Homo sapiens: one gene and its partner. The protein of the gene in region 1 purifies or fractionates together with the protein of each later gene. This does not show direct contact. Each region holds a gene or a part of one and is shown on either strand. Other genes may lie near its edges. The genes, in order: RHEB and SRPRB.

What was found.
Region 2: the proteins of RHEB (region 1) and SRPRB purify together in Homo sapiens (affinity purification with mass spectrometry; 2 studies listed by BioGRID and IntAct, with this or other methods). This does not show direct contact.

The regions. Positions count from the first base shown.
Region 1 is NC_000007.14:151,462,154-151,479,404, reverse strand, and holds the end of RHEB (GTP-binding protein Rheb), read left to right. Parts: intron 1-1,989; coding exon 1,990-2,072; intron 2,073-7,799; coding exon 7,800-7,856; intron 7,857-7,963; coding exon 7,964-8,011; intron 8,012-8,752; coding exon 8,753-8,834; intron 8,835-12,193; coding exon 12,194-12,286; 3' UTR 12,287-13,393; downstream 13,394-17,251. UniProt on the Homo sapiens protein: Small GTPase that acts as an allosteric activator of the canonical mTORC1 complex, an evolutionarily conserved central nutrient sensor that stimulates anabolic reactions and macromolecule biosynthesis to promote cellular biomass generation and growth.
Region 2 is NC_000003.12:133,815,815-133,825,156, forward strand, and holds the end of SRPRB (signal recognition particle receptor subunit beta), read left to right. Parts: intron 1-1,063; coding exon 1,064-1,118; intron 1,119-3,738; coding exon 3,739-3,952; 3' UTR 3,953-5,678; downstream 5,679-9,342. UniProt on the Homo sapiens protein: Component of the signal recognition particle (SRP) complex receptor (SR). Ensures, in conjunction with the SRP complex, the correct targeting of the nascent secretory proteins to the endoplasmic reticulum membrane system.

The DNA of each region.
Region 1 (17,251 bases):
GGCCTTATTAATCTTTTTTTAACTGATAATGTATTTTAAGCTCTCCCATCTATCATACGCATCGTTTTCATCTTTAAATCTTTGCTTCCTCTGGAATATGTTTTTGCCAAAGTGTGAATTGGAGTTCCAGCTTAGCCATTCATCCTCAGGTGGCTCTGGGCTTGTCCCTACACTCAGTTGAGGGTTACTTTTGGTCCTCACTGATTGAAATGCCAATATTATCATGTACCTCATTCTCATATCTGTCAGGTCTTTCTGGATTTTTCAGTCTGTTCTGTTTGTGAGCCAGTACAGTATTACTTATGAGAGCTTTATGATTTCTACTCAGCTGCCCTCCCAATTGCTATTATATTGTTATATTGCTATTATTCTTTCTCAGAAAGTAGACTTTAAAGGCCGGGCACAGTAGCTCCTGCCACTGCACTCCAGGCTGGGTGACAGAATGAGACTGTCTCAAAAAAAAAAAATCAGACTGGGTGCAGTGGCTCACACGTGTAATCCCAGCACTTTGGGAGGCCAAGGCAAGCGGATCACCTGAGGTCAGGGGTTCGAGACCAGCCTGGCCAACGTGGTAAAATCCTGTCTCTACTGCAAATGCAAAAATGAACCAGGTGTGGTGGTGTAGCCTGTAGTCCCAGCTACTCAGGAGGCTGAGGCAGGAGAATCGCTTGAACCTGAGAGGTGGAGGTTGCAGTGAGCTGAGATAGTGCCATTGCATTCCAGCCTGGGCAACAAGAGGGAAACTACGTCTCAAAAAAAAAAATCAGAATTATATCAGCTGGGGGCTCTTTCCTCCATTATACCTTCTAACTGGTAGTTTTTTACTCAGTGCTTCTTAGACATAACTTCTTTTTTCTATGTTTCCACAGTTTCCCTTTAGGGAAAACAGAATTTTAACTTTGAACCTACTCTAGCTGAGCTAGTGATTAAAATCATTTGGGATTTTGTTTTTAATCTTATTTATTATATCAAAGAATTTATAATAAAACTTAATTTTTCTTTTCTTTTTTTTTTTTTCTTTAAAGAACTTTACCATAGGGCAGTAATTCTGGGCTGTCATAAACAGTGGTTATAACCATACTATAAGTTTACAAAAATAATAGACTGCTGCTTAATCTTCTGGTACCATGATGTGATTTTTCCATAATAGTGCTTAGGACATGTGTTATGTTGACAATTTAGTTTCAACTAAGAATGAAACGTTCGTACCAGACAGTGGCGCGTGCTGTTGAAAACTGCACTGACATCAGAACTTTCTGTATGCTTTAATACGTATATAAAGCAAAGTGTCATAACGCTGCTTTATAAAACTAAAGACTACTGTGCTGTTGCGTAATAGGTACCTTTCTCTTTAATTCCTAGAGTTGCTCAGTAAATAACTCTCTTGGTCCCCAAAAGTCTGAATACCTCAATTGAACCTGGTGTTTTGATCCTCTTTTCTCTTTCTCTGTTTCTCTCTCTCTCCCCCACCTCCCTCCCTCTCTCCCTCTCTCCTTCAGATGCTGATGGCACCCCTCTAGCAACCTGTAGACTGAAGCTCAGGTCATTGTGACTGACATGCAGAGAATAAATCAAATAATATGCCAGTTTCAAATATAAAAATACAGATTTATGGGATAAATCAGCAGGATTTATAAATGTCCTGAGGTCTAGAAGGTTCTGGAGTTAGTGATGCTCATCCCTTGTTTTGAGATCACAGAGCCAATGATTTTTGTGTTCCATCCATCCTCTTCTCCCAGAAATTATGAAGGTCATCAGACTTTCCCCTAAAGTTCTAGAACAGCTAGTCATTTTTAAATATTGGCTTGAACCACATTATCACCTCCAGGCCATTCTTAAAGCTTCACTTTGTAGGCTGTTTCTGGCATAATATTGTAATCCACTCTGCGTCTACTTTGATTTCTTCAGGTAATACATGAAAAACTTTGGGTAAAGTTTGTTTGTGATGCTATATGAAGACTACTCAAAGATAATTTTTTTTCCCCACAGGATGAATATTCTATCTTTCCTCAGACATACTCCATAGATATTAATGGCTATATTCTTGTGTATTCTGTTACATCAATCAAAAGGTAAGACTCCTGCTGCCTGCTTGAGTTGATTTGCTACTCATAGATAACATTGATCCTTTTAAGGGACTGTGCTGGAATTATTAATAGTGACAATTAGAATTATTAGGCTACATGTTTTTTAGTGATTTTCTCGTGGAGCAACTGGATTGCTGGGAAACATGGCCCACTAGATGTTCTGTTAGTTACACCAATAGGATAAAAGGCTCTTTCTTACCTCAAGCTACCTAGAAAAACAGTGGTTCAGCATGATCTAAGCTTTTCTGCTAATTGAAATGGGAAATGCCTAAATTAATTTTACTTTGTGTGTGTTTTTACCATATTAAGGTGAAATAGACTTTCTAATAAAATGTGGGGGTTTGGGTTTGTTCAATATCTTATCCTTTGAATTTATGAAATAAGACCTTTTGGTAATAGAGTCTGACTTTACTACATAAAAACAAAGCCACTATTTTTATTAATAAGAATGGATATCGGTTCCTCTAGCTACGTATTTCATGTCTCCTCTTATCGGGGGATGGCATGTATTATCAGGAGGAGCAGTGGTCTGTGTCTGTTAACAGAACAGCTGGCTGTATACAGCAGCGGAGCTCTGGGCATTGGTGACAGCTTATGTTTGAAGACTTTATGAAAATATCAGTGCCAGTGGAGGGCGTTTGGTGGCTACGTAGCATCTATTGAGTGTGTGCGACATGTTAGGGAGTTTGCTACTCTCTTTGCCTACATATGATACATTACTTATTTCATCATTACCTTAATCCTTCATCAGAGATGTTTTATATCCCACTTTACGTGGAAAGAAACTGAGTGACAGAGACCTAAAGCAGCTTGCCCAGGGCTACATAATGACATTGCTGGGATTCATAGCCATCTCTCCAGTTCCACAGTCAAGGCTGACACTGTCCAATAGAACTTACTGCGGTGATAGAAGTGTTTGCTCTCTGTGCTGCAGGTGGCTGTTTAACTAAAAATGGAAAATTAAGCCTCCCTCGGTTACAGTAGCCCCATTTCAGGTGCTCAGTAGCCACATGTGGCTGGAGGCTGCCATGTTGGCCAGTGTCTGGGTTCCTTACCCCCACATACTCCACTGCCAGTGAAAATTCAGTCTGCTGCTCTGTGAGTGTGTTGTTTAACATTTTTCTCCGTGGCAGAGAAACATACTTTAGGGTGTTGAGTTCTAGCTATAAAATGTTTGAGTACCATTCTCGGCCATTCTTATAAACAGACCCCATACTGTCAATCCCCGAGAAAGTTTACACCTGAATCAAAACCAAGTACCAGAATTATGTGTTCCTTAAGGAAAATTGAGGAACTGTGAAAAATAGAAAGTGAGGGTAATCATTCTTAATCTAATTACCTAAGCATAGATACTGTTAATATCTTGGTATATGTTTTTTCTGGTCTTTGTTTTAGTCTGCATGGATTGTTTTAACATCCTTTTATTTGCTCTCTGAATGCTGTTTTATGGTTTATATTTTCCATGTTTTTATATTTTTACTTACCATGTAATATATATTTTTCCATATTACCTAGTATTTGAAATAGTAAATGGCTTTATAATATTTCATGTTCAATGATAGATGGATATCTCTCTTCCTGTTTAATGTATTTATTTATATTGTCACTGAAAGCAATGCTTGGATTGGATTTTATGCTTAAAACCACTGTGTACTTAGTATTTGGAAACATGATCATTTTCTTACTGACTTATAAGAGCACTTTAAATAGTAAAACTATTGGCCATTTTTATACAAAGATTTTTTTAATTTCAGTTGTATATTTTTAAAATGTATATACTGCCACGTGTAAGGCCTTGTCCAGAACAAATTTAGTGTACCAATAATCTAATGAATGTTGGAAGTTCATGTTTGTTTATGAATTTCCATTATTTTACTAATTTACTTGAAAAACATGATTCAAAGATTGTTTTGTTGTTGGTAAGTACAATTTTATCCTAGCTGATTTTTAGAAAACAGTGTTGGTGTTACTTTACAAATTGTTACTTTGAGGCATTAAAGTAGTAGGTAGAAAATTTTCTTAGTGCATCCACTGATTTTTTTTAAGTCTCTTTTTTGGTGTGCACAAATTAGATGACATTATAGAATCAAGTTGAAAACATAGCATGTGCCACTGGGGAAATTGAAAAATACATTGAGCTGGATTAAAAATATGAAAGTGTGCTCACCAAGGACCTTATGTATTTGAGAAAACACTGGCCTAGTGCAAAGCAGAGGACAAAAAGCTTGGTACTGTGTCTTCTCAGTGGCACTGTTGCAAGTTTTGACCAAGTTTCTCCTTACTAAAATGGGTGTGTTTTCTTTTGTTATATGCCTTTTACCTCAGTAACTCATAGTTTAATGAGCATTCTCAAATCTCAAACATGAGTGTGAGAAGAGTGGTGTTTTGTTTTTTAGAAACCTATATGCTGAATACACAAATATTTATGAATATACAAGAAATATGTCAGTAAAACTTTCTGAATCAACCAGTTTGTTGATCAGAATTGTCTAATCCTTTTTATTGAATTTAACCTCTATCTAAATAATAACCATTTTCATTGTTTGTGAAATAAAACAGAAGTCTCACATTATTCCTTTATATCATAAAACCCCTGTAGAATTGCTCTTTCTGAGTAAATAAAGCGAAAATACATCCTATTTCATAATTTCTAGAAATGGAAAAAAGAAACCTGCAGTTGAGAGATGTGAGATTTGGGTTTTCATTTATCCCCACTAACAACTTTGGACAAGTTACTTCACCGTACCTTTGTCGCCTGTAAATTGGGTATATTGATATAGGAGTAGATCTCTCCTATCTGAGGCAGCCGGGTTACTTACTTTAAAACATTAGTTAAGGGCCAGGCGCAGTGGCCCACACCTGTAATCCCAATACTTTGGGAGGCCGAAGTGGGCAGATCATTTGAGGTCAGGAGTTCGAGACCAGCCTGGCCAACATGGTGAAACCTCATCTCTACTAAAAATACAAAAATTACCCGGGTGTGGTGGCGGGTGCCTGTAATCCCAGCTGCTCGGGAGGCTGAGGCAGGAGAATCTCTTGAACCTGGGAGGCGGAGACTGTATCATGAGCTGAAATCATGCCATTGCACTTCAGCCTGAGCGACAAAGCAAGGCTGTGTCTCAAAAAAAAAACAAAAAAACAACACTGGTTAAAGGGAAAAAAAATCGGAAAGGTGATGTCAATCTCCAGTGTTTTGTTTTAAAGCATAAATATACATTCAGTCACTCATCTTGTGAAATTTTCAAATTGTCATCTTTGAATATGAGTTCACCCACTGCTGTTCAGTATGACTACATCCACGATTTGTCCATTATGACTTCTGGTTCGGTTTCTTCCGAGTGAGATGCTTGGGAAACAGTCTACACCTCAACTATTTAGATTGCTGTGATTTTCCCCACCAGTCTTTTTCAGTTGGTTTGGCACACCTTATTAAGGAGCACCGTTTTTAGTAGATCAACTCACAGTATTCAACTTCTAGTTTTCAGACAAACAAAACTCTGTCTACACATACTTCAAAAGTTTGCAACATAAATTATGACTATGATGAATTTAACTGGCATAAGTGGGTTTGGGAACAAATGGGGCTGTTTTAAATAATGCCTTTTTTTTCTAGTAGCTCGTAGTTTAATCAGCATTCTCAAATTTGAGACATGAGGGAGTATGAGAAGAGTGGTGTTTTGTTTTTTAGAAATCTGTATGCTGAATACACAAATATTTATGAATATCCAAGAAATACGTCAGTAAAACTTTCCGAATCAACCAGTTTGATTCAGAAAATCAGTGATCTCAAGAAATTTAGCCACTTAGAACAGTACACATTTATGATCTCACAGTTTTTGTGGGTCAGGAATCTGGGTGTGGCCTAGCTGTGTCCTCTGCTTCAGTCTCTCAGAGCCACAGTGTGGGTATCAGCAGGGGCTGCAGTCCCATCTGAAGGCTTGCCTGGGGGAAGATGTTTCCCAGCGTGTTCACGTGGCTCTTGACAGGGTTGAGTTTCTTGCAAGTTGTTGGACTGAGCTTCTTAGTTCCTTGCTGGCCGCTGGCCTGAGGCTGCCCTCTGCTCCTTGCCAGGTGCTTCACTTCATTGGGGCAGGTGCACAAGAGAGCCAGGGAATTTCCTGCATGACAAGCCACTGTCTTTTATAACCTAACCGCAAAAGGGACATTCCATCACCTTTGCCATATTCTGTTCATTAGACGCACGTCACTAGGTCCATGCAGGGAGATGACACACAGTGTGGCCACTAGGAGAGCAGGAGATCTGGGAGCCGGCTCCAAGCTGCCTGCCACACAGTCCTAGTTCTTTCAGCTGTTTCTCACGTGACAGGGTACTGTATTTTTGCCCAAGTGGCGACACTTTTAAAGATAGGCAAATACAGCATGCGGAGGAAACCGTGGTTCTGTAATGCAACCGCAGGTCCTTAGGACACCCATATCCCATTTGTTGACCCACAGCGAGCTTGTAGGGGGGTTAAATTTCATTTTTGTTTTTATCAAATGACAGCACACATCGTTTAAAATAGCACAGTGTGTAATTCATTCAACAAGCTAACTTATTCTGAAGCTTGTGATGCAATCATGAACAAAGCAGACAAATCCCTGCCCTTGCGGACCTATTATTTCTGGTGTGGGAGACAAACAGTAAAACGACACACATGCGAGATAGGATGTCTGTGACCATGCTGCCAAGAAAAATAAAGTACGGAAGGGGTAAGAAATGGAAAGGAAATTTGTCATTTAGGGTAAACAGAAGAGGTGTAAGAAGTGACATTTGAGGCTGGGTGTGGTGGCTCACGCCTGTAATCCCAGCACTTTGGGAGGCCGAGGCAGGCGGATCACGAGGTCAGAAGTTTGCGGCTTGAGAGTCACTGGGGCCGAGTAAAGATGGCCACCCATCAGAGGATGTTGAACCAGGCACCGTCCATCTGCTGCAGCAGAGTCCTCTGGTTGCTGTGCTGAGCAGGGGTGGCGGGGAAGGGTTGGGGCTGTGGAACTGATGCAGGCAGACTTGGGCCAGGAATTCACACCTCAGCGGCAGCAGTGGAGGGGAGTGAGAAGCCGTCAGATTCTAGGTAGGATTTGAAAGTAGAGCCAGTGATGTGCTGGCAGATGTTTGCATGGGTTTTTTGGGGGAGGGTGGAAAATGATTTGTGGCCATTTGCCAGCAGTCAGTGGTATAAATAATCCTGCTGTGGCAGATTTCAAGTGATCATTATGACATCTCAGATCCCCTTCCCGGTGAGAGCCACCTCCATCCTAGAGTCATCGGCTCATTGATCTGATTGAAAGCCAAGAGATACTGGCATCACCCAGAGAATGTATGTACCTAGGAAAGAACACAGGAGCAGGCTGAATGTACTAGGGCACTCTAGGAAAAGCTGTTCAAGTTGTAATGTAAACAGTTGGTTCTTTGCTGAATGAGTTGGGTGATTAAAATTTGCATTTATGTGGTTTCTCAGCCCAGTGGTAGGCTTTCCGTTTGAATGCCTTACCTGTTTCACTTTGAATATCCTCAGTCAGGGTTGCTGAGTGTCAGATGTATGCACATGTGAATGGATTGCTAGGAAAAAACAGGAGTTCTTTGTGTTCATTTTATGTTATGTTAAAATGGTGAGTCTGTGACATTTTACATTTTTCCAGCTGGCAACATAACATACATTTAAAAACTTCAACATTAAAATGGATGTCTAATTTATACTTTTTGTTTTATAGTTTTGAAGTGATTAAAGTTATCCATGGCAAATTGTTGGATATGGTGGGGAAAGTACAGTAAGTAGTACCATTTTATCTGCTTGTTAGAGAAACTTCTTTTAATAGTATCTTCTGAGCAATACAATCTGGCACTTACTGGTTTGTCTTTTTTTTCTTACAAATAGAATACCTATTATGTTGGTTGGGAATAAGAAAGACCTGCATATGGAAAGGTATGTAGCTTTTATAAAGTCAAATCTAAGATGATTTAGTCACTGAAGTATCATTTTAATTATTGTTCTGATGTCAAGAATATTTTTAGCTGTAGCATTTTTATCCGTTCAGAGGTGTTATGGTCGTGTGCAGCAGAAGCAAAAGTGGAATAGAAATCTCACATTCCTCTAGAAAAGAGAGAGCAAACTTTATAGGAAACTACCTTTAGGTTATCTGCCACTTTGCATAAAGCAAATTCTAAAAAGACATAGTGCTCATTTATGCAGCAAGTGGTTTTTGAGTACCAGGGTTTGGGATTACAGTGAGGAGCAAAGGAGGCAGATGTCCCCTGCCCAGGCAGCTTCATGTCAGAGAGGAAGAGACTCTACAGCCTGCATGCAAGAGAATTGAGCTTTCAGGCTCTTTCACAATTTCCCCTGGCCTTGGGTGCTTACAACCTAGCTGTAAAATAGTCAATTGTTACAGATACGGGAGTACTGGAAAATAAGATCATGTTCTCTGAGCTGGAAGGTTTGCTGGAGCATGGATAATCCCATAAAGCAATGTCTATTCTGTTCCCCAGCTCAGGCGTAATTAAAACACTCCTGTGTTACATTCTTGATGCTAATGTTAGGCCAGGGCATGGTTCTGCTTCATGAGAAAGAAATTGACCAAAATGGAGCCTGTTTCATAAATCAATTATACATGTTTTATATAATGAAGAGCAAAGTACTTTAACTAGAATTTTATTTTTTCTTTAGGGTGATCAGTTATGAAGAAGGGAAAGCTTTGGCAGAATCTTGGAATGCAGCTTTTTTGGAATCTTCTGCTAAAGAAAATCAGGTAACAGATTCTATAAACCTCATTTTGCATTGCGTTCTCATCAGTCGCAGGGATGTGTTCCTTGCAGTTGGCATTTGACCTCTGTCTTGATCACTCCTGTGTAACATCTGGCCTTCCTCCATTTCTAATACCAAGTTTTGTGTTGCTTTAGGAAGATACTACTTAGGTGTTTATAAATTCAGTCAGTATTCTACTTACAGTGGAACCTAGGATATTTGTAGGATAAACAGAAACTATTAGTAAAGGAAATACTACCTTTTGTAAACATATATTTTTGGTTTGTATTAATAGCTGGTACAGAAATAAGTCCATACAGGGGAAAAAAAAAGAATTATATCACTTTAGTACTAATTTTGTAACTACCCACCCCCTGGCTTTTTTTCTGTTAGATGAAACCGGGTCAGACGTACGTGTTAATTGTTAACATAGAAATGATGAAGAACCATCTTATAAGCATTTAGTACCAATTTCACCCCGCAGATGTGCCTTCAAAGGCATGTTCTGGGAAGGATGTAGATTCTGCCTCCGGAGGCTTCACAGTCCTGTATGAGCCCTTCTCTTCCATTGCTCTAATTTAGACCCCCGGCACCAAGCTTGTCTCCCGCCCCCAGTGCATTTTTCACCTATACATTTTTTTTGCTGCCCTTAATTTTCTAAAGATACACATCTGATGGTATCATCCTCTACTCAGAAACTGTCAGTGAACTGCCCCTTCTCTATAGAACCCTTCGCCTGGTCCTGAATGCAGTCAATAATTTGTTCTTTTCTAGTTTCTTCTCTCACCACGTTCTTGTACTTTCCATCACATCAAACTGCTCCCTTCCTTAAACACACCATCTCCTGTCCACCCCACTTTCAAAATGTCTCACCTTTCCTCATGCTCCCCTCCGGTTTAAAATAGCCCTTCTCTAAGTATCTACTTAGGTTCATGTGGGGTTTTATATTTTGAATGTGTTTTCAACATGTGGTGGTGTTTGATCCTCAGGTAAGATGACTTGGTTTTCATTTCTCTGAGGAAACTCTAGTATAGTAGGGTGGTGCCTCCTCCCTGGGAGGGCCGGGCGCCAGCAGCCTTGGCACTCTTCCTTCCCTGCCCCGCCCCTCTCCGCAGCACGGAGGTTTGTAGTCCTCAAGGCCCCACCTAGATTTCACCTTCTTGTTGACCCCCTCTGGATCCATCCAGCTGAAAGAAATTGTGGTTTCTTCTCTTAGCCCTCTTAATTTGTTCTGAGATCTGAGTCAGTATCATTTATATAAATATCCTTCATAATGTTTAGCACAGTGGGTTATCCGTCAGCCCAAGTATCCTGTGATAGTCAAATTGGCTTTGTCCTGTGTTGGGATATGGAGGGATAGTGAATCCATGTGGTTATGTCCTCTTATGTGCGGATGAAAAAAACTGATTAAACAGATGTGTGTAATTCGTTCCCAAGTTCCAGATAGCAAGGGATTTATCGAAGTCAGCTCAGTTTCTGAGTATACACAGAATTCAAATAAGAATTGAGATAGTTAAGAGATACCTATATTTTAAAAATTGAATTAAATCCATTGAGTGCCTATGGACTGTATCCTTCAGATCATGTAGTTAAACCGCCTCATTTTAGAAGTGAGGAAATTAAGTTTCAGAGAAGTTAAATGACTTTTCTAAGATCACCCACTACCTTACGTGGTATAAGAACTAGGACTGAATTGTAGATCTCATCCACATCTAGTCCTTTTTTCTCTACACACTGCTTCCTGTCAATCAGGTGATCTGAAGCCGGTGACCTAGATTAGACAAGCGGGGTGGGACCTGGGGTTGGCTTCAGTTAACTAGGAGGACAGACGCCTCATTCATACCAACAGGACAGAAGGCTGAGGATGGGAGCCCACATTCAAGTGGGTGGGTCAGCTTGGTGGATGGAGGATGTGGAGTTCTTTCATGAATGTGGCTTCTGTTTTCCAGTGAAGTGTGTAAAACAAGGTTTTCAGCTGAGCGTAAGCACGGGGAACATTTGAGGAGAAGGGACAAGGCGTGGATGCTTTCTCTGGGGAGTGCCCAGATCCAGGGATGCAGGCGGGTGGCTAGGCAGCACCAAGTGTCTGCGCCAGGTTCCTGGTCATGGGTGTGAGGTCAGCAGTGAGCGGTGTGTGTTTTCCCTGGGCAGCGTTTACGGTGTGGCCGCGGGCACCGTGCCAGCGACAGTTGGTAGGGAAGGGAGTTGAAGTACAGTGGCGCCATGGTGGCCTGCTGAGTCTGAGCTGACCGAGAGGGAAAGGAGCAGCAAGAAGTGGTTAAGGGACAGGGGAGATGTAATAATAGGGTCAACAAATCAGGCCCCTTGTGGGGCTGAGAATTGTTGCTTCAGGATAGCTAGAGAAAGAGCTGGGAAGGTGGTGTGGTGGGACGCTGGCAGTTGGTGTGTTCTGGTTTCGTGGGATAGTGGAAGTCACTGGAGTGATGGGGGAGGGGGATTCTTGGTGATTAGGAGAACAGGGTACTTCCTGTGGGGCTTCTGAGAACAGGGGCAGTTTTTCATGACCACAGGACTGCATTTCAAGGACAGGGTCTGGGAGTCACGGTGGCTCAGGCCTGTTGTCCTGGTGCATAAGGAGGCGAGGCTAGGCTTTCGAGGCCAGCCTGGGCAACATAGAAACCTCCAATCTGTATAACAAAAAAGGAAAAATAAAGGACAGGGTCTGACAGTTCTCCTCCCCACTCAGTGTAGGAAGAGTTCCTGCTCCAAGTGGCCATGATTCCTGTCTGTGGTGAAGGACTGGTGGGGTTGACCCTGGGCTGAGGCTGAGGGCAGGAAGACGGGCAGGAGAGGAGAGGCCAGGAGATAGGGAGGGCAGTTTGTGGATTGAAATGACCGAGAATTACGCCACAGAGGTGTTGGAGGCTGGCATCGTGGCATCTCAGGAGCACGGAGGGTGCCTTCCCCACTTCAGGCCTCTTAGTGTCAAGGATGTGAGAGGCAAGGGCTGCTGGGAGAGTATGTCCCGTAGGAAAGGAGGAAAGATAGTGCCAGAAGTGAAGAGGGACCCTGAGGTCAGAGGACACTGGGGTGGGGGTCATGGGGTGGAGTGGGACAGGAGATGGTGGTGAGTCTGGGAGTGAGGACTCTTCGGGCGTCTCCTGGTGCCTGAAGGAAACAGGGTCAAAAGCACAATCGGAGGCTGGTTATGGTCTGGGTCAGGAGGGGTGGACAGTGGCCTTACTGGGCGTCGGGGGGCCCTGAAGTTCTGGGGCTCACCAGAACCCCTCCTCCTCCACCAGTAGGAGGGCAGGGCAGGCGGCACGCCCTCCTCAGTCCGTAAAATACTCTCGGAGTTCGGCTTCACACTAACACTGTGATTGGGTTTCTTTCTCTTTTCAGACTGCTGTGGATGTTTTTCGAAGGATAATTTTGGAGGCAGAAAAAATGGACGGGGCAGCTTCACAAGGCAAGTCTTCATGCTCGGTGATGTGATTCTGCTGCAAAGCCTGAGGACACTGGGAATATATTCTACCTGAAGAAGCAAACTGCCCGTTCTCCTTGAAGATAAACTATGCTTCTTTTTTCTTCTGTTAACCTGAAAGATATCATTTGGGTCAGAGCTCCCCTCCCTTCAGATTATGTTAACTCTGAGTCTGTCCAAATGAGTTCACTTCCATTTTCAAATTTTAAGCAATCATATTTTCAATTTATATATTGTATTTCTTAATATTATGACCAAGAATTTTATCGGCATTAATTTTTCAGTGTAGTTTGTTGTTTAAAATAATGTAATCATCAAAATGATGCATATTGTTACACTACTATTAACTAGGCTTCAGTATATCAGTGTTTATTTCATTGTGTTAAATGTATACTTGTAAATAAAATAGCTGCAAACCTCAGTCCTTTGTGCTACTTGATGTGGCTTTCAAAGAAGAGAAGCCTTGTCCTGAGTTTCTCACTTGGCTTCAGGAAGGCCCCAGGTTGGATTCCAGAAACCAGTGAAGATGTGGCCACAGGAGGAGGTGTGCTGAGGTGGCTGCTGACCGTGGACTCCCTGCGCAGTGGCCTGCAGATGTTGGGGCTGGGTTACAGCTGATTGAAGCTGAGTGGCCCTGGGGGGTCTGTGAGGGGAGTTCCTCCCCAGTGATGAAATTCTCTCCTTCCACCCTCAAATCCCTAGACCTTGACTGAAATGCTCCGTGGTCGGGAGCCTGGTCAAGGAGGAGGAGCTGCTGAGAGGCATTGTTCGCCCTTGCTCATAGCTTAGCTCGATGTCCGTGTCAGACAGGAGATGATTGAGAACAGCCTTGCCTGTCACTGTCCTAGAACACCCTGGAGTTTAGTGTTCTGTGTCAGAGTCTTGGGAGCCTCCTTCAGACCCAGATGACGGGCCTCCCTCTGTCCAAGGAGCAGCTGTAAAGGAGAAGAGGGATTTCATTTGTTTGGTGGCTGTTACCTTGTCTGTAAGTCAAACTTGGAGTTGAGCAGTGCTTTTTAAACGATTCCCTTTTGCAGCTAAAATTTCACAGGGCTATTTCTAATACGTAAGCAAATGTTACCATTGACTTTATTAATAAAATATAGTTTTGCTTTGCAGTTGATTGTTAATGAAAAATTATGTTCTTAAAACACATGCCATTAATTTGGATCTTTTAAATATTTTTGCCTCATTTGTCATTCCAGGATGAAATTTCTGCTTTAGAAGACTTCCACCAAATACATTTTTAAAGACAGGGTCTCACTCTGTCACCCAGACTAGAGTGCAGATCATAGCTCACTGCAGCCTCAAACTCTTGGGCTCATGCTCAAGTGATCTTCCTGAGTAGCTAGGATTACAGGCCTAAGCCACTATGCCTGGCCAAATAATCACCTTTTAAATTTTGACAACACAGTATTGTTACTTATTACCAGGGTTATTCTTAGGACTAAAAATGTAAGAGCACTGAACAGAAAATGGGGACCTAGTCCATCCAGTTATGTCTATGTAAATGGAACTTAGAACAGCATATTGTACTAGAAACTCAAGTTCAACTGAACTCTCCTGAGGTGGTCCTTTAAGGACTGGACCTCCTGAGTGGAGGGAGCATAGTATCATTTCTTTATGTGACGCAGTGCACACATTCCTTCAGATATGCCCTGGGGACCTGCCATGTGCCAGACACTTCTCTGAGTGCCATGAACACAGCAGAGAAACCTGCACCCCTGTGTGCCGTCAATCCTGCGCTGAACCTTGGAGATGCCACACAGGGTAGGCCCCCGTCCAGCTGCCCAAGGCAGCAATCCCAAGAAGACAGTTGACTCGTTTACTTGATTGAGCATTCGTGGTTTTGTTTTTTTGTTTTGGTTTGGTTTTTCTGACACAGAGTTTCGCTCTTGTTGCCCAGGCTGGAGCACAATGGCACAATCTCAGCTCGCTGCAACCTCTGCCTCCCAGGTTCAAGCAATTCTGTCTCAGCCTCCCAAGTAGCTGGGATCACAGGCGCATGCCACCACACCCGACTTATTTTTGTATTTTTAGTAGAGACGGGGTTTCATAATATTGGTCAGGCTGGTCTTGAACTGACCTCAGGTGGTCCGCCCACCTCGGCCTCCTAGAGTGCTAGGATTACAGGCCTGAGCCACTGCGCCTGGCAGAGCATTAGTCTTATAATCAGTGATAAAACATTGTCACTGGGCATGATGCATGTGCCTGTAGTCCTGGCTACTCAGGAGGCTGAGGTGGGAGATTGCTGGAGCCCAGGCGTTCTGGGCTGTAGTATGCCGTGCTAATCCTGTGTGTACACTGAGTTCGGCATCAATACGGTGACCTGGGAGCTAGGGACCGCCAGGTTGCCTGCGGAAGGGTGAAGCCATCCAACCTGGAAACAGCGCTCAGAACTCCTGAGCTGATTAGTAGTGGGAGTGTGCCTGTAAGTAGCCACTGCCCTCCAGCTAGCAACATAGCCAGACCTGTCTCTTAAAAAAAAAAAAAAAAATTGTGTTGAAAAGGTAATGCTTTTCTTTGTGGTACGTAAGTGTAGTCTTAGATTTATTGAAATACAGGAAGTGCAACTATAAAACTATATCCAAAATATTTTGCAGTTCAAAATTAAATTTTAAAATACAAATTATAAAATCACATTACAAATTAAAATTAGTGTGATAGAATTTTGTTAAAACTAAATTGTCCATCCACTCTGGACATCTCTCCCCACTGGTTCACCAGCCATGCTCTTGCCTGAATGGCTTCTCACCTGCTTGTCACCAAATCTAGTAGTTTCCGGTTGCTTTCTTGACCTCTCGGTAGCATTCCACACAGTTCACCGCCGTCTCCCCTGCGTCATCATTACCCCACCATCTCCTGGTCAGCCTGCCAGCTCTGCTGGTGCATTGGTCTCCTTGGCTGTTCTGTATCAAACCTCTCAGCAGACCTTTTTTCCTGCCTACACCCTCTGCCTTGATACTCTTCAAGCATAGCTGTAACTCTGTGTAACCAGAAGAGTCCAAAATGTCTATCTCCCACCTTGACCTCTTTGGGCTCCAGGCTGATCTTGACAGACTCTCTACTTGGGTGTTTTATAGGCATCTCAAGTTTACTATGTCCAAAACTGAATTCTTGATTTTCCTTGGAAACCTGGTCCTCTCTTGGACTTCCTGTTTCAGGAAATGACACCATTATTCACTGGGTCCGTATGAAAATTAGCAATTTGGGAGCTGTTCTTTATCCCTACCCTCATACTTCCCATCCGATCCATCAACAAATCCTAAGGGCCTTGCCTTCAAAAATCTACCTTGTGTTTTGTCCATTTTTGTCTCCACTGCATCCTGGTCTGCAATGGGACACCCTCTGAGCCCCTACACCTCAGCCAAAGCCAGCTTGTAAAAACAGTATCATGTTGCTCCTTTGCTTAAAATCCCTCCGTGATGATTGTGCCAAATCCGTGTGTCCCAGCCTCAAGGCTCAGAGTGACCTTGCTGCTGCTTAGCTCAACCCTGTCTAGTTAGTGGCCTTGATCAGTTTCCAGAGCCAGAAAGCTCTCTTAGCCATGGGGGCTTCTGGGGCTCTTTCCTTTGCCTGGGACACCCCTTCCCGAGACTTCTAACCCTTCAGATCTCAACATTGTCTCTTCCCAGGGGCTTCTAGGATGGCCTGAAGCACCCCTCTCTGTGAATCTATCCAAGCACTCATGTTTTATCATATGGTACAGCATGTGTCATAACTGATCATCACTTTTGTTCCTTGTATTGTGTATGTTGTGTATTACTCGACTAGATTTGGCTGGAGTGGAGACAGTGTCTCAGACATCTTTGATTCCAAGCTCCTCCTAGCACAGAGCCTATAAAATAGATACTTTCTACTGTGCCATTTTAATTTCCTTGTAGTTTGTGTGTGTGTGTGTGTGTGTGTGTGTGTGTGTGTATTTTAAGTTATTAGCAGTTGCCCTGGGAATTACAGTTAACATCTTACTTTATTATAACACTCTAGTTAAGATTCATACCAACTTAATTTCAATAGCATACAAAAGCTTGGCTCCAGTTCCTCTCTCATTTGTGCTGCTATTGTCATGCAAATGACATTTCTATATATTATATGCCCATCAGCACAGGCTTACAATTGGCTTATGAAGTTGCCTTTTAAATCAAATAGAGAAAAGAAGTTACAATTAAAAAATACATTGATGTTGTCTTTTCTACATGCTTATGTGGTTGCCTTTACAGGTGCCCATTATTACTCCTCATTAGGATTCAAGTTACTGTCTAGTGTCCTTTTCTTTCAGCCTGAAGGGCTCCTTTGGTATATCTTCTAGAGCAGGTCTGCCAGCAATGGGTTATCATGGGTTTTGTTTATCTGGGAATGTCTTCTTTATTTTTCAAGGATAGTCTTGTTGGGTATAAAAGTTGGGGGGAGAGTTTTGCTGTCAGCACTTCTACTTACCCAACTTATTCAGGTATTTCATGAGCAGCACTCAGCCTGGAGCCTGCAGGCTCTTGTGTAACCCCAGAAACATAATGGCTTCCCAGGCCCCCTGTGGGCATCTCATTTTCCAGTTTCTGTTAGCTTGTTGTTTGCCCCAGTGTCAACTAAATTGCTGCTGATTGTTTTGATAAACGTCCCCAGGGAGAAAGTGCTGGGTGAGCCTAGCTCAGAGTCAGGTCACAGGCTAGCTTGCAGGTGGAACCACCAGACCAGGCAAATGAGGTCACTGAGCTCCAACCCCAACTTGACCCTTCCTGTGGCTGCTAAGCTGCTGAGTTTTATGGGGATTGCTGCTGTTGCTTTCAAGGCTACCAGGGAGCTCAGGGGCAGAGGTTTGGAGGGCTGTGAATAGGGCCAGTAAAAATGCCACAATGCTCACTGCTCTGAGGTTCAGCCAATTTCCTTCAACACTCCCTGGATTGTTATGAGCCTTTGGTTAATTTCCGGAGCTCTGGAAACGTTTATTTTTTTGGACAGTTTTTGCCAGTGTTCTCATT
Region 2 (9,342 bases), on another chromosome or scaffold:
TTGAGGATGAGATACAATTGCTGTAAAGAACTATAAATTGAAGGATTTTTAATCTTAAAATTTATTTCTACTCCTACCTTTTCACCAGTCTTCTAACCAGAAGACCAAGGAATGATAACCAAGTGACTGCTAACTGATTTTTCTTTGATACAGTGTTTTTTCTGATTATAAATTATTTTACTTTACCAAGTTAAGTTCATCAGATTGACAATATGTGATATCAGATGCACAGTTTTGCAGGGTGGAGTTTCTGCTTTCAAACAAGTTTACTGTACAGCACATTTTATCAAGGGAAGTTTGCTGAAGTTGTTTTCTTTTAACCTGATAACCATTGAAAACTTTTCTAGTAATCCCCAATAAAACTGGGCTTCAGTTCCGTTACCTGTACAATAAGACAGACTAGTGGATCTCTTCAGGTCTCTTCCAGATCTGAAATTCTGATTCTATGAAGAGTTCAAGGCATTTCTCAGAAGTGACCAGATAATATTGATAATGCCTTATTGGGAATGCAATTAGCGTCATTACCTGACCTCTTTATTTCCCTGATTGAATATAAGGAAGGGAGTTATTGTTTATTTGCCATGGGCTTTGTGCCAAACCAGAGCTTGTTTCTTACCTTTAGTACACTTAATGCTTTAAACATACCGTCTTAGGATCAATTGGAAACATGCTAAGTTTACTTTAAAATGACAGATAGGGCACTGTCTTTTGGCATGTGAAGGCACTTCTCATAATCACAGCACTGGTAGGTTTTCTTTCTGTTAAACTGAGTAAACTTATATGTTTTGAATTGAAAGGTCTATAAGGTGTGGAGAACTTTAGGGAAAGCTAAAGTCAGTTTTAGGGTCACCAGCATAATATGTTTATAAGCATTATCTTGGGAAAGCCCCTAGTGCAAGTATAAAGCTTACTTTGATAGAGAAGGAACTAGTGATAAAAGGTCTTTTTTTAAAAAAAGAGAAAAACTTACTGGTTTAAATAGGAATTTTCCTTCTGTGTAAGAAGTCTTGGGGAAAAAACTCATTCTCGTTTAAACTACAACAGTGTCTTTATTTCTTTACAGATATTGCAATGGCAAAATCAGCAAAGTTAATTCAACAGCAGCTGGAGAAAGAACTGTAAGTGTGAAAGAGGCCTGTTGGTTAATTATATATCTTAACACTTAGACTGTAAGCAGCATATTCATGTTTCTTTTGTTTGGTTTTATGTGATTATCACAATTATAGACTGAAGATTAGTGTGATAAATATTTGTTAAATAATTTACAAAATAATGGAATCACAAAAACTTACTAGGGTGCTTATAGATATTTTAAAATTTCATGGAAAGAAGATTTTTTTGAAACCATAAACTTAATTTATTTTACCATTGTTACTAAATCATTTATAGTTGAAAGGTTTTAGAAGCTAAAAAAGTTTACATGCCAACTTGAGAACGGTGTTATTTCAGTGAGTGGAAGTGTTTGTTCACCACTCAATAATGCCTGTGAAGTGGTATTTAAGGATGCATGTAAATAATAAAAAATAAAAACTGAGAATCAGGAAAAAAGAAATTAAAACATTTAAAAGCCACTTTGGAAATTATTGTTGACAGAATAAGAACAGAACACTGAGGAAGACTACAAGTCTTTGATACTACATTATAGCTTCTTAGATTGTTAAAATACTTGGCAATATTATATATCCTGCTTTGAGTGTTTCAAGGTTTGTAAATTGAGCTATAAGCTTTTGAATTTTAAGGCATCTAGCATGTCTTCTGCGTTATGCCAATTTGTAAGAGCTAGCCAAAAGCTGGTGTAGAAGAAATGATCAACATTTATAGTAAAGCAAGTTATGTTTTCTTATTGCTTTTGTGTAAGGCCTTGAAAAGGATCTGATGAGGAAAAACTGTATAAATTCAACTTTTAGAAACTTTTCTCCCCACTATGACTTACTGACTCCCTTATTCATTTAAGAAGCACCTGTAGTGCATCTAGTGGATGCCAAGACTGCAGTTGGGAGCAGCTGTAGGAGGAAATGTGTTCCTGTACTCAGGAGCTTAGAGTCTGGTAGAATCTAGTCAGCTTCGGGCATTGGCAAACTCCTGCCTGGGCCTGCAAGCCAAGAGTAAATCGACATTTTTAAAGGGCAGGTAAAAAACAGAAGAAAAATATGCGACAAAATATTTAATTTCTGGCTCTTTGCAGAACAATTTTGCCAGCCCTGCCTATGCCATTTTCAGTGGTTCCTTTCCCGTCTGGAGCTGCGAGTTTATCACCCTGTCCTCCTGTGCTCTTGATGCTCACTCTCTTGGATTGTATCTGTTGCTGCCATTAGGTTAATAAGGACATTGGAACAATTGGATGGTTGGGTTTTTCTAAAAATTCTCTTGAAATTGTTGGGAATTGTTTTGGGGAAGCCAAAACTGTCATAATGTTATTTGTGAATCAGTCTTGGGTTATTTTTAACAGTACAGTCCAAGTCTCCCGTGGTTAAAACACATGTTTTCCATAGGCTGTTTGCTTTTCACTCTATAGACTTAGAGAAAAACAATACAGAAGCCAATCCTTTTTTAAAAGCATTGAAAGGCAATGCTTTCTTAAAAGGCAGTGAAACAAAATGTTGACAAATTGTAAAGGTTAACATCAGTTAAAATTCGGAATCTGACTAATTTTAATCTCAGATTTATGAGAATTAGGCCCTGTTAGCTTAGAGGCATTTCATAGTCTCTCAATAACACGGTATATTATATTTACATGGCCTTGTGGCAAAAGCTGAATACATGTTTTACTTTTTTCCTTAAAAAATTTTTATTGTAAAATATCTTACTTATAATAGTATATATGTCACATGCATTAAGCTTAAAAAATATTAAAATGAATACCTATGTACTCACCACCATGCCTAGAAGGCCCCTGTTTCTCCCCAAAAGCTTTTCCCTCAAGAGGTCAGCAATATCCAGTTTTGTATTGTTTTTTAAAAATACTTTTACAGTGTGTGTGTGTGTGTGTGTGTGTGTGTGTGTGTGTGTTCCTTCCTAAACAAGGTATTGCTTAGTTTTGCCTGTGGATTCTTCACTAATTTTGAAGCAACTTTACAGAACAAGAAATGCTTTATTTTGTAAGAAAGAAGATTGGCAGCATGTATTCCTCTGCTTCTGGATAGCAGAAAGGGGAAGGGGAGGCCGACAAATGAGTGTTGCTTATGCACCCTTTATTAGGGCCAGCAGGTGGCAGTAAGGGGACTTACATTGGGAAGGTTTTGGTGGTTAAAGAGGTTGGATAATAGTAATTCTGCCCTAGTTAGATATGAGAATCTGGAGTTGGTGGATTTCTAAACTCCATATCCAAATAGACTCAAGATAAAAATACATACCCTATCTACCCACACTTAACTTTCAGAAACTTATGTTTTTATAACACTTAAAGCATGTATTTTAAAAATATATTTTTAGACGGCTTCATTCAGTAGATCCTCTTAGAAGGGGGCCTTGGGCTGAAAGAAAGTTGGTGTGACCTGGTCTACTGCTGACCTGCCTTCTAGCCCTGTGAGGTCTGACCCCCCCAGCCCGCCCCACCTACCTCACCTCTCTGTCCAAGAGAGGGACTTATAAATGCAAAGGATTATTCAACAATCTTAATAGCATAATTGGCAATTCTATAGTTAAGTTTTAAATGAGTGCTGAAATGTTTAGAAACTAATATGATTTAATTGCTGTATAAAAATTTTGCCTCCTGACTTCTTTCCTTTTGCCCCACAGCAACACCTTACGAGTTACCCGTTCTGCTGCCCCCAGCACACTGGACAGTTCCAGCACTGCCCCTGCTCAGCTGGGGAAGAAAGGCAAAGAGTTTGAATTCTCACAGTTGCCCCTCAAAGTGGAGTTCCTGGAGTGCAGTGCCAAGGGTGGAAGAGGGGACGTGGGCTCTGCTGACATCCAGGACTTGGAGAAATGGCTGGCTAAAATTGCCTGAGAGGCAGCTCTAAAGCACAAGACCTGGATGTGTGACACACAGTTTTGGAAAAAGGTCTGTGGTAGTCTGGAGTTGATGAGGAAGGGGTACAAGATGTGGTTAGAAACATTTCTTTGTTCTGGAAACAAAGTACTGTTGAAACCAGCTTGGAATTTTTTTTTTTTTTTTTTTTAAGTTCAGTTCTCCCTTATGGCTGCCTTTCAAACAAGTACCTTTTATCTGATGCCTGTATCTTCCCTTTGTTAAGGTGTAACTTGATGTAGGGTCAAGGTTTTTGTGACAACAGGCAGACTCCACACAGAGAGGATATGATGAGAATATGGCCATCACCTGAAAAGTTTTCTTATCTTCTGTGCTTTTGGTCCCTGGAAACAAATCCGCCTATGTATGAAGCTAGTTGATTTCCAGTTGCACTATTTCCAGTTGCCTCTGAAGTTCACAGGCAATACATTGTCTAGTCCTTTGCGAATTTCTCTGATTTGTGGGCACAGTTATGAAGTTTCCCCACATGTGAAGACAGGTACAAAATAGCAGAGCCAAGCAGACAGTGGGTCTATTCTTCATTAGCTCAGTGACTTGTCCACACTCGTCTTAGCACTTACGTTTCAAAAGCTTGTCACAAACCCTTGGAGTCATTCCCAGATAATAGAACTGGAAATGATAAATCCCCTAATGCCAAGGGTCTAGTGTGTTCTTAGTGGTTATACTGGGAAGTGTGTGGAGATTTAGGTGCTGCTCTGCTGCTCTGGATGGCTGAAGGCTCCTGGGCCATCTTCATGTGCTGCTTGAAGAGCTCCTATTTTGTACTCCTGGCTAGAATGCTGTGGAACAAATACAAAGTGAAAAAAGTTCTCTGTAGATTTCTGAAGTGCATATTCATTGATGCCAAGAAAAAAAAAAAGTTGCCTTTTTGAAGTGATGTTTTTTGCTGTCTTCTTAAACACAAGGCTTTTTTGAATGATTAGTATATTTCATGGTAAAGAAAACAGCCTGTCTGGCTCAAAGCAATTAAATAGAATGTAATGGTGAGTACAAATGAGTGCACATGTCAGGACTCAGGTCTAACTCCTTGTCTCCTGAGCCTAAAGATTGCAACATACACAAGAACACACTCCTATTCCTACCCCACACACTCAGGGACAAGCCCAACTAAAGCTTACAAGGAGACCAGGGTGGCTCTGTCCAGGGGAGAAGCCAGTTATGGAACAGTGCATTGAGAGCCATGGTAGGAGAGGCCCACAGTTCTCTGGAGCATGCAGCAGGGGCACCCCACCTGGCCTTGAGGATCAGGGGGAGTCAAAGGATAAAGCATGGGGCTGATGACGTCTGAGGGAGTGTGATCCTCCATGTATGGCCTCTGCCTGCTGTCTCACATGTCCCTTCTGGTGGTCACTTGGGCTCTAGGAGTATACGTCACCTCAGACCATCTGGCAGAAATACTCCAGGCTCCTACCCCAAAGCACATGTCAGCCTTGCTGCTGGAGCACGAAGACAATGTAAATGAAACATGAAATGGAGGAGTTGTGAGACCCTGACCCTGAGTCCTTACTTGAAAGCTGCTGCTGGTGTTCTGAGTGTCTTTTGGACTCTTATTTCTTGCCCTTTTCCTTATTAGGCAAGCAGTAACTTAGGAAGTAGGTAAGAGCAATAAATGTGACATGTTATGTCATCATAGTAGGAGCTCATGGGAATAAAAGTCAGTGGCTTGATGCTTCTGTTAGAGGCATGTGTCCCTCTCAGCCTCTTTTATTTTTTTCTGGTTAATATCTTACTTTATTGGAGGAAGCAGCACACCAGAAAAAGTGACTGAAGAAGGGCTGCAAGTTTGAGTTTGATTCAAGGCCTAAAGAAGGTCTTCCAAAAAAGGATAATTCTATCTGGAACACTGGTCTCAAATGTTAGTGGGCATCAGAATTACCTGCGATGCTTGTTAAACTGATTTGAGGACCCTACTCTCAGACAATTTGATTCAATAGCAAGTCTGGTATTGCCTCAGGAATCTGCATGCTTAATAAGTCTTTTGTCAGTCGCATGGCACCCCTAGAGATGATCTGGCCTGGAGTGTCACGTGTGCCTTTACTTTGTTTTTAAAGTCTCTTGGGGCACACACCCTGCTGAGTTTTTCTGACAGGGTCAAGTCAGCAGGCATGGGAACTCTGACCTTGCTTCTTACTCCTGTACTAGTAGCAGGCATTCCGTTCTTGTGGCTTTGGGCCAGGATGAGGTCATGGTGACTAGTCTTTGGGAACTGGGAAGGGTTTTGATGGGAGGTCAAATGTGCTCTCTCCACTCAGGTGGTGCCCTTTTGTGGCCCTGAGGGCATTTGACTAAAGTAGGCCCATTTCATGAGATGGGCAGGTGTGGCCAGAGTAGAAGGATGGATGTCAGGTCTTGGAGACGGGCCAACTAGGCACGACTGTATGACATAGATGAGACTTTTGAGCTTGAAACACCTTGGGAACATGGCAGTGTATGGACACCGAGACCTCCTAGGACAGCAGCTGCCTAATGCAAATGACCCTGTTCCCTGCTAAGGCTGCAGTGAGATGCCCTCATGGAGGGGCAGCTGTGATGAGTGAGCCCCAGGCACTCTGTTGGTGAATATGTCCACTTCTGGAATGGAATCTCCCTAGTGGGTATGGACACGGGCAGACCCAGAGGGGTCTAAGCACTGCACTGTTTCTTCCTTTGGCTCCTCTCCAGTCCGGGCCTTGGTAGCCTCTCCACTACCAGGTGCCTGACAGTCTACTGGGGGTTCCTAATCAACAGCAGCTGCTGTTGGTGGGGAGTCCCTGGGGTCTGTCACTTCTTCCCACTGCCTCTGTCTCAGTGCCTCCTGGGCTGTCAGTGTTCCCCTGTGGTCCTGCCTTGTATGAAGCGCTGGCCATGCTCTGTTGACTTAGATCATTTCAGCCAGTCTATGTTTTTTCTTGTTTTTGAAGTTTTGGGTTCAGCACAATTGTCAAAGCTTCAGTTGGCTCATGCCTGTCCTCACCTGAAGGCCATCAGTGGCAATTAAGATGCCTATCTCTTTATCTCATCCCTTCACACATTTAAGGAAAGGTGATCACCCACCTACCTTCATTTAAATGCGCAGGAAAACAATCCCACTTCCCTTCAACTGTAAACCTCGAGAAACTTGACTGCTCACAAGAGCCTTGTACGCATTTATCCATTGGGTAAAGGCCACGCCTTGCAGCAGACCATGGAAATACTAAACAAAACGCAATTCCTGCTTTAGAGGCTAGTAGCCCCATTCTGAGGTTAAGAAACGTGCCCTTTCAGTGTGGTTTCCCTGCTCTCTCAGTAGTGTGAGCTCCATCACTGCTGCACTTGACTCCTAAGCGCTGTGTGGGCTTGTGGTCAGCTGCCAGCCATGCAGCCCCAACGGGACTGCCACTTTTCCACTGGCCTCTGAAGTGCCAGTGTTCCCATGATGCTGATGTGTGAGGCACATGGCCATGTTCTGTTGACTTGAATATATTGTTTCAAGGGTTTTTTTGTTTTGTCGAGACAGAGTCTCACTCTGTCGCCCAGGCTGGAGTGGCAGTGGTGCCGTCTCGGCTCACTGCAACCTCTGCCTCCCGGGTTCAAGTGATTCTTCTGCCTTAGCCTCCCCAAGTAGCTGGGATTACAGGCCTGTGGGACCACTCCTGGCTAATTTTTAGTAGAGATGAGGTTTCACCATGTTGGCCAGTCTGTTCTCAAACTCCTGGCCTCAATGTCTCTTCTAATCAAAGATGGCTTCCTTGAGGTGGCAGCAGATTGGAGGGTGTTCTGGAACCTTTATAAGCTTTAAAAGGAAAGGTAATTAGTGAAGTTGGACTTGAAGAAGAGTGAGATTCCCGGGCAAGGGCAATTTACCTAATCTTGGCCTTTGTTCCTCTTTGGATTGGTCCCAGGACTGTGCTGGCTTTCTGAGCATCTTTTAGTCTGGAGATAACTGAGACCTGGAGGGGCCACTCAGGGATGTTCCTAACTGGTGTGGTGTGGGGCTGGGGATGGAATATGGCAGCTAGATGTTGTCAAAGGTCATTATAGTTCACCTTAAGTTCTTGCCTTTAAATGGCTTTCTGAAAATCACCAGAAGCATGAGAGATCCAGTCCCTGTACCCTCTCCCCCCTTCCTAATCCCCTAGCCATGGCAAGCAGAGTGGGGATGAAGGAATATATCGTACCCCTGACTCAGTTCTGCCTGGAGGCTCCCTTCCCATCAGCCTTTCAGCAGAATGGAGATTAGGGGAATGCGTGTGGATTTACTCTCATGAGTGTGTCCCATCTTTACCCCTTCGGAGTTGGTGGACAGCCCAACTCCACCAGTAGGAGGAAGAAGCAAAGCAGCAAAGGGCTTTAGGTAGTGGACATACCACCCAGGCATGACAAAAGGGACTCTGTGGAGCACACACTTCAGGAACTGTTTTTGAACCCCCCCATTTATGACTGCACCACTTAAACACAGACAAGAAGCTTTGTTTTGAGAATTAGGACAGTTTATTGTTTGACCAACATGCTGAGTCTTTTCCACATTTTACACAGTTTAATGTGAAATCAACATGGCGGCTATGTCTTCTGAGCCCATAACAGATGGAATTGCCACCCTCTGTGCTCCTCACAGCCAATCACTTTAAAGGGATGGGTGAGGGGAAAGTGAGGGGAGAAGTGGACACACACCGCGAGATGCAGGCTGGCCTTCAATGCTATGGAGGCTTCCCACCTCCTGAAGGAACCATCTAAACCCCTGCTGCAAGGATTTCCTGATGAAACCACACACTGCTGGGAGTGCCAACCAGACAGGGGTCTGGAGTCCAAGGAGTTTGCACATTGAGATCCCAAGGTTTTGGAACACCTAAATAGTTCATGTCAAACAAAAATTCAAAGGGTGTCCTGATCTGTGTGGGTGCCCATGACAATCAATCAGAGTAGACTTGGGGACTGGCCCTTGTGCAGTAGAGGAGCCCAAAATACCACCAATATTCTCACTCATATGCTGGGAAGAACCTAGTGTCCTAACCAAAAAGAGTAGAGATGGTCTGAGGAACACACCCACACACAGCAGTCCTTGCTGTGTAATAAATATGGAGTCACATTTGTTCACACACAGGGCAGCAATGGATGAAAAATGGAAACTTCACTGGTTCTGATCACTCCTAACTTGCTGGGTGATCTTAATAAGCAAGTTGCCCTTCTCCATCCTGGTTTTCCTGCCTGTAGACAGGAAAAGTTGTGACAGCTCTGCTTCACATAGCTGTAACAAGGTGACAATGCCTCACATTCTTTGGGGAGAGGCAGTTCGGAAACGAGTGTGCGCACAATCTGCTCGGTTGATGCACACAGACATCCTTCTGTTCAGCTGCCCCTCAAGTGGCTCAGACATGCCTCACTGTCCTCGG